Linked DNA regions of Homo sapiens. The protein of the gene in region 3 purifies or fractionates together with the protein of the main gene of each other region. This does not show direct contact. Each region holds a gene or a part of one and is shown on either strand. Other genes may lie near its edges. The genes, in order: NUP210, DDX60L and SECTM1.

Evidence for each region.
Region 1: the proteins of SECTM1 (region 3) and NUP210 purify together in Homo sapiens (affinity purification with mass spectrometry, with the first as the bait; one large-scale study listed by BioGRID). This does not show direct contact.
Region 2: the proteins of SECTM1 (region 3) and DDX60L purify together in Homo sapiens (affinity purification with mass spectrometry, with the first as the bait; one large-scale study listed by BioGRID). This does not show direct contact.

What each region holds. Positions count from the first base shown.
Region 1 is NC_000003.12:13,413,697-13,417,343, reverse strand, and holds part of NUP210 (nuclear pore membrane glycoprotein 210 precursor), read left to right. Parts: intron 1-3,647. UniProt on the Homo sapiens protein: Nucleoporin essential for nuclear pore assembly and fusion, nuclear pore spacing, as well as structural integrity.
Region 2 is NC_000004.12:168,477,592-168,481,835, forward strand, and holds the start of DDX60L (probable ATP-dependent RNA helicase DDX60-like), read right to left. Parts: upstream 2,902-4,244; 5' UTR 2,786-2,901; exon of another isoform or gene 2,604-2,785; intron 2,213-2,603; exon of another isoform or gene 2,045-2,212; intron 1,971-2,044; exon of another isoform or gene 1,695-1,970; intron 1-1,694.
Region 3 is NC_000017.11:82,323,643-82,327,289, reverse strand, and holds part of SECTM1 (secreted and transmembrane protein 1 precursor), read left to right. Parts: 5' UTR 1-49; coding exon 50-143; intron 144-2,399; coding exon 2,400-2,708; intron 2,709-3,647. UniProt on the Homo sapiens protein: May be involved in thymocyte signaling.

The DNA.
Region 1 (3,647 bases), on a different chromosome or scaffold from region 3:
TTCCTATTTTTTTTATTTTATAACATCAAAATTGGACAGTTTTCGGGCCAGGGGAACCTTAGAGGTCACCTAGTTTAAACAGCCTGTGTTTCATATAGGAAAACCTGAGCTCCAGAAGGGGAAGTGATCTCTGGGAAGTCTTGTAGCGATGGACACTGAGTTGGAGCAGGAGCTGCTGGGACCCCTCCCTGTCCCACGCCATTAGACCTGGGGACTGGCAGCCTCTGGCTAATTTGCCAGGCTCTAATTCTCTCCAACTGCACCCAGCCAGCACTGGTTTTGTGACAAGTTCCTGATTCCTTCTAGATATTTTGCATTATTGAAAGTGTTCCATAAAGTATATTACATTTGCTCCTTTTAAAGGTATATACAAAACGACCTCATATCAAAAACTGGGAGAACAGACGAAAAAGAAATCATGCCATAATCTTCCAGCTGTAATACAATCACAGGCAGCATTTTGGTTTCTTTTCGGTCACTTATGTTTCCTCTCCTAGCTCCTTTCTTACATTGCCTTGAACCTGGTTATTTGGGCACCTCGGGAACCTCCTCCCCTGCCAACACTGGCTAGCACTGAAGCCCAAGCACTGCTCTGTTGCTTCTTCCTGAGGGCTCCGTGTCTGAGCACCTTTCTGCTGGGTTGAAGTTGCCTCCTCATTGATTCTTTCCCTGTCATGGAGTCCCAGGGTATTCTGGGTGCTCCAGCAAGGGGGCGCTGTCTTGGAGAAAGTGAGTGGCTCAGATTGGTTTCCCAGGGGTGGAGCCTGAGGCAGGATTCTGCTGCCCTAGTTTACAGAGAAAGTGCTCTGTTGGGCAGCTGGATAGGGAAGGGAGGCTGCCTGCAGGTTGTCCTGCCTTCAGGCGAAGAGACCAAGCTTTGAGCTTTTGTACCCACTGTCAGGCAGCCATTGGTTCCCCTGGGGAAGGGGATGTTGTGCGACCTCCCGGGCCTCTGGCGGAGACACTCTGTTTTGAATTACGACCTGCAGCTCCCCTGGCTGAGGTGGGGAGGGGATGTGGACCTGCCTGGTGAACAACATCCAGACACAGCATGCACAGTGACTGCCATACCAAGCTGTTCACAGACTTCTCCTTTCCTGCCCCTGACAGTCTCTCCTGGGCACCTTGGAGCCATCTAACACGTGTGCCAGGCCTGGTCCTGCACCAGGGTACACCCTCTCTTATGTGGTCTGGGGCACTTCTCAGTCACAGGTGTAAGGATTCTCAAACAGGTAGATGGGAGTCCTTTCAGGGCCAGGGAGGGCACTGGTCCCTATGCCGTGGAGCTTGGCCTTGGGGCATGCTGTACCCCAGGCAGTTCAGATGACCCCTGGGGAGTCCCTCTTTGCTGAGGGGTGACTGTGGGAGGCCAGAGGCCAGCACTACCCTTGCGTGTGGATGTCCTGGGTCCCTCTCCCTGCCCCAGCAGGGGAAGCTGCAGCAAATCCCCTCACAGGCCTTCGTGGGTGAAGTTGGGCACTAAGGGTGAGGGATGCACGCTGAGCCAAGTCAGAGTGTCATCTGGCCTAGCTGGCTTCTGCTGGGCTCAGGGACCCTGAGCCTCTGGGACGGGCACGTCAGCAGGTCACATGCTGGAAACTTGCACAGGTGAGGCAACAGGGCCTGTAAGAAGTTGCCCCATAGTCAAAATAAAAAATTCACAAAGTGGAAACAACCCAAAAGAGGGAGTTGAATTCGACGGGAGGCCCCCAGTTTGCTCTTCTGTACCTCCTTCACTTGGCCTTCCCTGAGCCCACACCTGTACTTCTGCTCTTTTCGTTGAGAGTGTTTTCCCCTGTACCACTCAATTTGTGTGCATGCTGCATCCCCACACACCTAGGCCAAATCTCTGTCTCCTTCCTTATGCCTGGCCTTAGAGTCACAGGCTTTGGTCGATTGCGTTATCATCTGGGCCTATTTGATGGCATTTCTGGCAGTTAGAAAGTGGGGTGGAGAAACCAGAGCTCCCGCAGGGCCTGGGAGAGGGCACACGGTGAAGACCCGTCCTGCCTGAGCACCAGGGGACAAGCACTGATGGACGACACATATTTCACCGAGGAGGGCTGGAGAGTCACTGAATAAGAGGTGACAAATGTCTGTGACTCTTTTTATTTTTTGAGATGGAGTCTCGCTGTGTTGCCAGGCTGGAGTGCAGTGGCACGATCTCGGCACACTGCAACCTCCACCTCCCAGGTTCAAGCTATTCTCCTGCCTCAGCCTCTCAAGTAGCTGGGACTACAGGCACATACCCAGCTAATTTTTGTATTTTTAGTAGAGACAGGGTTTCACCATGTTGGCCAGGATGGTCTAGATCTCTTGACCTTGTGATCTACCCGCCTCAGCCTCCCAAAGTGCTGGGATTACAGGCATGAGCCACCACACCCACCTGTCTGTGACTCTTACTATGAGCCAGGCACTACTTGAGGTCCTGGGATGTGACAGTGAAGCAGCAGGAGATGCCCTGCTCTCAGGGACTCACAGTTGATTGCCGGAGTTAAACGGTTAATTAAGATGAGATCTGTGGATGCATGTGAGGCAGGAGTAAGTCCTGAAGGAAACAGAACTGCAAGGCATGGAATGTGTTTTGGGGAGGGCGCTCAGCATAAGCCTCCTGGGAGTCGAACTAGGAGTGGAGTGGGGTTGAGTTGGAGGGGACAGCAAGTGCAAAGGGCCGGAGGAGAGATAGAGCTTGTCAGAAGTGCGCAAAGGCAGCACGTTTGGCCAGGGCAGCAGGGCTGGGAGGGAGGGTGGAGAGGTTGGCAGGGCGGGGCCATGTGGGACCTTGTGGGCTGTGGTTAGGAGACAGGAAGGAGAATGCCAGGTCAGATGTGGGCAGGGTTAGACTGGGCCTGGTTTTTGGGCCTCGTTCTCCCTGGCCCCTGAGGGCTGTCTGTAGCTGTGGCCCCTGCAGGGCTGGACCGGGCCTTGCTCAACTCCCTTCACCAGGCCCGCAGCAGGGAAGTGCCAGGAAGTGTCTGTGGACCTGGGTTGACTTGGGCCTTGGGTGATTTTCTTCCTGCTTCCTTTGTGGGTCCCCCACTCTGCCTGAGCTCTGTCAGCCCCACGAGGTGGCTTCCGCTCTGTAGACACTGCCTTTGGGCACCGTTAGGGGCTGGACCCCGCGGGTGGATGGGAGGTGGCGTGTGTCATCCACCACCCTCACCCATCCTTGTTCTTTGTGCAACTCTCACTTCTCTTTTCTTTTCACTGTTGCTTTCTGGCCTGACCCAGGTCCCTGAGTTCCCCTATGGCCTGCCTGCCTCCTGTTCCTGTGTTGTGAAGAGTGGGGAGCACCCCCTCAAAAGCAGTGCCTGCCAGACGCCAGCACATTCTGTGTGCCAGTGGGGCCTCATGCGACAGTGGGAATGAGAAAAATTCACTCTTTCAAAACTCACTGTCAGTCCTTTAATTTTCCTCAAAATAAAAGTTTTCTTCTGGTGTCTGTATGTGGTTTACATATTTTTTTATTTTAAATTGTGGTAAAATATATATAACATATAATCGACCTCCTTAACCATTTTTAGGTGTAGAGTTCTGTGGCATGAAGTACGTTCACAATTGTTGTGCAGCCACCTCCACCATCCACCTTCAGAACTCTTTCATCTTCCCAAATGGACACTCTGTACCCATTAAATAGCAACTCCCTA
Region 2 (4,244 bases), on a different chromosome or scaffold from region 3:
AGATGTAAAAAGAGAAGACACAGATTATAAAACCAATCAAACATGGTATGTATCTCCACCCTAATGGACAGATAATAGGCAGTGAGAAACTAGGCTTCTTGGGCTTAAAAGTTGGAAACCCAGGTGATGCAAAGCAAAATATCTGGTAAAAATCATCCCCTTCAAAACTAGGAAGCCAACCACATGCCAACAAGCCTGATGCTCACAGAAAAGTGATTGGAAAAGGTTGATGGTCAATGTCTATAGTGTTTTAGTTGCTGTTTTTGAGGAGCTATGACCAAGGAAGAATGGGAAAGAGAAATGTCTTAAGAAGGAACTGGGTGGTATGAAAGCAGAGCTGGAAAGAAGAGAATTGGCTGGACACAGCGCCTCATACCTATAATCCCAGCCCTTTGGGAAGCTGATGTGGGAGGACTGCTCAAGGCCAAGAGTTGGAGACCAACCTGGGCAACAAAATGAGACCACATCCCTATTTTAAAAAGGAAGGGAAGCGAAGGGGAGGGGAGGGGAGGGGAAAAGAGGAGAAGAAGGAAGGGAGCCAAGAAATTTGGGTCGCACAGGTGACAGCTTCTGTACTGCAAATAAAAAGTGATAGGACAAAAAAAAAAGAAAAAAAACACCTTGCTCAACAAAGACTCATAAAGAATTCTCAGTTAAACAGAAGGACTTAGCCTTGCTGCAAGTATTAGGTGGAGGTGTTACCCTCCCAGGCCAGACTATCATTTCAAATGAACTTAAGACAGATTATGCTAATTTGAGAGGGAATTAGGATGAAAATAGAAACTCTCTGGGTGTAATTAACGGCATAGGGAACTAACTAGAGCATAAGAAGCTGGATACATTTCTTAGAGAATTGTATTTCCAAATAAACTATGAGCTGCCTTAAAAATGGTTACATCAGTAAAACAAGCAGCAGGTTATAAAAAAGGGTGATATCAGTAAATCAACCAGCAGGTCTCCATACTTACAAAGCAGAAAATGAGCCTGCAGCAGGGAAAACCACAGAGATTTCCACCCACATCAACATAGCCGTGGATGATAATTAACATGGGTATTTTATTAAAAGCCATAAAGCTAATCCTGAGAAGAATTTTTAAAAATATATAATTCATATTAGAAGTATTTCTTTCACAGGGAGTCGTCGGAGTCTGTCTAAAGTAGATAAAACAAAAGACTGATTTGTAAGCATATAATTTATAAGCAACCAAGAAAGAAATGTATATCTTTGGAGTGGTAACGCCTCAGGAGAACTAAAACTGTGAGACTAAGTATGAAGGGGAAAGTAGTAGAGAAGGGCATTTAATTTTTGTTTTATGTCTTTCTCTTCTGCTTCAAATAAAACTGATCAATTATGACCCAGCATACCATGGGGTATCATACAGCAATTACTAAGTAAGACTGACAGGTACCAATAAATCATGAACCAAGAAAAGCATACCAGTATGACAGCCAAAATATCTTTTAAAGTGTATGGATCTAGAGATAGACAGATGATGGATCGATGGATGGACGGATGGTTGGATGGCTGGATGATGGATGGATGGATGGATGGATGGATGGATGGATGGATGGATAGAGAGATAGGAGCTATAGACAAAAACTTGTCTCTTTGTAGAGTATCAGGAAGGATTCACACTAAACTATCCCCAATATCTTTGGGATAGAAGGCGAAGAGCCTTGGAAGCATAACTCACCCTCATTTATTTTAGTACCCTCAACTCTCAGCACCTGAGTTCCACCAAACTTCAAACTGCAAATCTTAGATTGAATGGTATGTTACTGTTTTCAGGAGAACACTCGAAATCATGAAGGTCTGTATGTCGTTGATGTTATGGTTTGGACTTCTTATTGTGTCTTTAAAGGACTTGCTTCTGTTTGGTTCTGACCGCTTTTTCTAGCAGTCATTAGGAGCTTTCATAATCCTTAAGGCCCCATCACGGATGATGTCAGCTTCTTTGATTATGGAAAACCTTGAGAAGTTTATTATAAATTTATCAATGTAACTTTGTAAACAAAAGAGAAGCGGGAAAAAAGAACAAAGTACCTTTCCAGAGAAATAGTAAAACCTTATTTCCGCTATTAAGAGCTTAAATCCGGCCGGGCGCGGTGGCTCACGCCTGTAATCCCAGCACTTTGGGCGGCCTAGGCGGGCGGGTCACGAGGTCAGGAGATCGAGACCATCCTGGCCTAACATGGTGAAACCCCGTCTCTACTAAAAATAAAAAATAAAAAATAAAAAAAAATTAGCCGGGCGTGGTGGCGGGTGCCTGTAGTCCCAGCTACTCGGGAGGTTGAGGCAGGAGAATAGCGTGAACCCGGAAGGTGGAGGTTGCAGTGAGCAGAGATAACGCCACTGCACTCCAGCCTGGGCGACAGAGCGAGACTGACTCAAAAAAAAAAAAAAAAAAAAAGCTTAAATACAAGACGGAAAAAAGGGAAGCGGCTTGCTGCCTGTCAATGTCCAGGTTCGAATGGCTGTGCTCAGATGTGGTGACCCTTACTTTCTCCTCAGCACCCCAGATCCCCAGGCCCCCTCGGGTGCAGAGGACCCGTTAAATGCCTGAGCACTCTCCTCTCTCACGGTGGTTGTCCCTCTTCCCTACCTCTCCGCGAAGCTGCCGCCCGAGCCCAGTGGGCGCCCCAGCTTCCCTCGCCCGGCGCGCACGAAGCCACCAGGCCACCTCCCCGCCCGGTCCATCTGGATGTTGAAGGAATCCTAGAACCCCCGCGGGACAGCTCCGCTCCAGGGTCCCTAGCGACACCCGACGTCACCCGCAATCCTCACCCCGGCCGCCGAACCTGCTAGGTCCAAAGAGCTTCGGAGCTGCACGCCCCGCGGGGAGGAGGTGGAGCAGAGGAGACCGAGCGCAGAGCCTGGCGTCGGACTGGGCGCTCTGAGCCACACAGCAGCCAGCGCCTGAGTTTTTATCTAGGGAGTTAGTTTCGGTTTCTTTTCTCCACCGCGAGGCCTTTTCGATTTCCGCAGTTTTCTGGAGGTAGAATATAGGTCTGCATTGGTTTACTCTGAGAATCTTAGGGAAGTAATAGTAGAAGCGATGATATGCTATCTGGGACATGCATGTAATTGTAAAGGGAAAGAAAGCAGAGAAATCTGGGACTCTAAACAAGGAATTGAGGCTGAGAGTAAATGCAGCACGCTAAGCACTATGAAAGTCTGCGGTGAGGTGTGGCGTTTTTCTTTTCTGGCAAGGTACTGGACAGGCAAAAATGGAGTAAAAAAGGATTAGGGGCTTTGAGTTTCTGTCCTAAGAAGTTCATTTTATGAAAAATTTCCAATAGTATAACTGTCCAGTGTGAACATTTGAAAGACCAATCATCTATCACAGAGAATTTAAATTGAGAAGAAGAATGCTCTTTAGTTTTGTCATCAAGCTCATTAATGTTTGAAATTCGAGTTTCAACCCCAGCCCATCATGGTCTTTAGTGCTCCAGACGCTTAATTCCATGACGTTATGCATGTGCAGAATATATTGAGATTCAAGGTGGTGGTGAGGGTGCCCCAGTAACGGCATGGGGTAATAAATGGAGAGAAATCGAAACCGGAAGTTCTGTCTTCAAGAAAAGGAAAGGGTGGAAGTGACTTGTTCACAATAGAAAGAGCCCAGAAGAACAAAGTTTTTTCTCAGACTCTGGAATATAAAGTGGCTTCGAAAAGGAGGTGAAAACATTGCTCACTTCTGTCAGGATTTTTCTTTAATTTTATGTTTGGTTGAAAATAGTTATGATTCTCTTTCTCAATGAGGATGACATTGAGAAAGAACCTGAAATGACTCATGATTAAGTCATGAGTTCATCTCAGATGAATTCCTCTCTAGCATCTGATACTGGACCTTTGTATCATAAGAATGCATTTGCTAGCAGCAGAAAATTGGGCTTTGCTGTAAAAGCATTCATTGAGCTTTTTATGTGCCAGGCAATAGGCTAAGCCCTTAACATGTATTATCACATTAAATCTCACAGAAATCCCATGAGCAACTTTACTGTTGCTATTTTATGGATGAGGTAAATAAGGCTTAGAGAATTCAATTACTTGTCGATGACCCTACAGGTAGTTAATGGTAGCCAAGACTTCAAAATTTAATTCCAAAGATAATATCTACAATATTCTCTGTATATATTATCTCATTCCAGTTCTTTTAAATACTACAGTGTCATTATTCCTCCCCCAAAGCACATACAATTTAATGGGGATTTCCTCTTTTGGTTGTAGAAGTGGGCCCTAC
Region 3 (3,647 bases):
GTGTTTCAAGAGCCAGTGACAAGGACCAGGGGCCCAAGTCCCACCAGCCATGCAGACCTGCCCCCTGGCATTCCCTGGCCACGTTTCCCAGGCCCTTGGGACCCTCCTGTTTTTGGCTGCCTCCTTGAGTGCTCAGAATGAAGGTAGGTCTCGGGGCCCCGCCTCTCTGCTGGGGAAAGGGGGGCCCGGTGGGGGCATGACAGGGGCAGGAGGGGTGGACTGAGGTTGGGTCCAGGTGCCACCAGACCCCCGATAATGACTGACTCTGCAGACCCAGGGCCTGACCATGTGGAGCTGGGCTGCCTCAGGTGGCGGTGAGTGGACCGTGTCCCGCCGTGGGTGGAGGGTGGTGGTGAGTGGGCCGTGTCCCGCCGTGGGTGGAGGGCGGTGGTGCCCGCTGTGGTACCTGGTGGTCACTGTCAGAGCAATTGTGGGGAAGGACCAAGATCACGACCAGTTTCCAAGGGAGAGGGTCTGGGTCAGTTGCGACCTGTGCCATGGCCGGGAACAGACAGCAGCCCTGGCCTGGGGGCTCCTTAGTCAGGCGCACCTCAGGCCTGCCAGGAGTGGATCTGCATTTGAACAGGGTCCCCCAGTGAGATCCTCCCCAGCTCTCTAGATCCCCAACCTGTCAGCAAAGTGACCTGAGGGGCTTTTCTTTTCTTATCTTTTTTTTTTGAGACGGGTTCTACCTCTATCGCCCAGGCTGGACGCCCAGGCTGGAGTGCAGTGGTACAATCACAGCTCACCGCAGCCTCGACCTCCTGGGCTCAGGTGATCCTCCCACCTCAGCCTCCCGAGTAGCTGGGACTACAGGCATGCACACCATACCTGGCTAAATTGTGTATTTTTTGTAGAGATGGGGTTTTGCCATGTTGCTCAGGCTGGTCTCAAACTCCTGGGCTCAAGTGATCCTCCCACCTCGGCCTCCCAAAGTGCTGGGATTACAGGCGTGAGCCACTGAGCCACCCGAGGGGCTTTTAAAAGATGTCAGAGCTCAGCCACATCCCAAACCACATCCCAAAGCAGTTCAGTCAGAATCCTAAGAACGAACAAAAAACAAAACAAAACTGAAAGGGAAGAATCCCAGGTGGAAGAACCCTGGTTTCGGGAGATTCTGCCCCCACCCCCCAACAGTGGTTCCAAAGTGTAACTGGGCTGGGGCACCCCCTGGACAGCCGCCCGCTGCCCTCGGGACGGTGTGAATTTGTGCAGTGGCCTTAGAGGCCCTGCAGTCCCTGAACACTCAGAGCGTCCAGGCAGGCAGCCAGCCTGCTCGTCAGAGGAAACTCAGTCCAGCCCGAAGGCCAGGTGCCCCTGAAGCCCACCTCCTCCCATGGGCACCAAGGCCCCTGGCACTTGCCAGCACATGGCACCCACCATGTGGTTTTGTATTTGGTGAAATGTGGCCAAATGGCGGCTCCAACCAGCATGCTGTGTGCTCCCCGAGAGCTCACCCTGCCGTCCGTCTGTCCGTCCATCCGTCCGTGTCCAGTCACTGGTGGACGCTGACGCAGCAGGGACAGTAGCAGCACCAAGACCTCAGGCTGGTACCATGCTCGGGCCCGACGGCCTGAATCTCAGGCATCCTTGAGCTGGCTGCTGGGGCAAAGGCCCCAGACCCTCTGAGGGAAGCAGCTGCACGGGTCGCTATGGGGCAGGGTTCACCCAGGAGGCGGGAGAGAGAGACTGACACGCCGGCTTGTGTCAAGGACTTGACCTCCCAGGACTGTGGAGCTGTGTATGGAGCTGGCCCAGCAACCTGGAGCTGAGCGGGTGGCCGGGAGGGGAAAGGGAATGTTGGGGGTGGCACAAGCAGGCTGGGCCCCACAAGGACAGGCTGGAACCCATGTCTGCTCTGCTTGCCTCTGAGGCTGGCCTGTGGGTGTCTGCAGAAGCCCTGCCCTTCCTCACGCAGCCGAGCACCTGCACCTGGCCTAGGCCTTGGAGAAACAGGAGGGAGCTGGGGGCGGTGGGGCCTGGCCACTGCTTCCCACGAGGAGGGTGATTCGGCAGGTCAGTGGCAGCACTCCTGCCACAGCGCAGCCGCCCGGCACACACCTGAGGCTCTGACTTCACCCACCCCAGTGGAAATATACAGGGGAGGGAGTTGATAGGAAATGCCTTCGTCCAAGCTGACACACCCCAAGGAACAGACGTGGGTGTGAGCACGCACACACACACACATACACACACACAGAGCCACCCGTCTTTTTTGTTGCTATTTTATTCTTCCCACACGAGATATATGTGCTGATTGGGTCGGGTGGATGTATACATAGTTCACTGTGTCCCTTAGAGGCCCTGTCTCCTGCCCTGGCCCTGGCCCTGGGCACAGCAGCCAGCCAATGCCCTGAGGTCCAGCCCTGATCCGTGTGTGCCTCTGTCTGGCCCTACAGGCTGGGACAGCCCCATCTGCACAGAGGGGGTAGTCTCTGTGTCTTGGGGCGAGAACACCGTCATGTCCTGCAACATCTCCAACGCCTTCTCCCATGTCAACATCAAGCTGCGTGCCCACGGGCAGGAGAGCGCCATCTTCAATGAGGTGGCTCCAGGCTACTTCTCCCGGGACGGCTGGCAGCTCCAGGTTCAGGGAGGCGTGGCACAGCTGGTGATCAAAGGCGCCCGGGACTCCCATGCTGGGCTGTACATGTGGCACCTCGTGGGACACCAGAGAAATAACAGACAAGTCACGCTGGAGGTTTCAGGTGAGGGGAGGCTCGGGGAAGCAAGGGGGAGGGGAGTGAGAGGGGACACGGGGAGGGGAGGGGGCCTGGGCAGGGGGAGGGCTGAGACTGAGAGGGAAGGAGGAGGAAGAAGAGCAGGCATGAGCCGGGCTGCCAGGAGACAGGGTTGGCGGGTAGAGAGTTGGGGTGGAGGCCTCTTGACCTCCTGGGACAGTTCTTCCTTTGGGAGGGGCAGGGGTCAGGCAGGAGGCTCAGGGGGCACAGACCCCACAGTGGGGTGGGACCCACAGAGGGCAGCCGGAGTCCCACAAACAACACAGAACACAAAGCTGCTCCTCAAAGGAGCCCAGTCTGCCTGTCAGGGGTGGGGGCTGCACCCTGCAGCCAGGAAGCCCAGGCACCCCCCGCCTCCCTGCCACCCCCACCCCGGCTGTGTGGGGAAACTGCACCCCAAATACCTGTGCTCTGAGAGGCCCTCCAGACCCGCAGCACCTGGCTTCGAGGCACCTGCCCTCCCTTTACTGGGGTCACCCAGAGGTGCTCAAGGTCGCCCGCGCAGCACCCTTAGTGACCACGAACAGGGGCCTCCCAGGCTGCCACGGTCCTGCCCCGCCCCTCCCACTCCCACTCCCATGTTGTCCACCTCGACAAGCACCTAGACCACACCTGCCCTCGCCACTCCTGTCTTCAGGGCTGGGACCACCCCCGACCCTTCTCTGTCCCCACCCCTCTCCTCCTGCCCTCAGGGGATGCTCGCTGCCCCACTCTCTGCCTCAGCTCCCCCGACACAGGCATGATCACCACCCACTCATGTCCCCACTAGCCCAGCCCACTGCTCCCTCTGCCTCTTCTCCCCCGACTCAGGGCCCACAGCCGTCACCACCAGCTACTTATCTGGTTCAACCAGAAAGCAGTGGTGGCCAGCAGAGCAGCCCCCAGGCCCTCTGTTCTGCCCTCCAA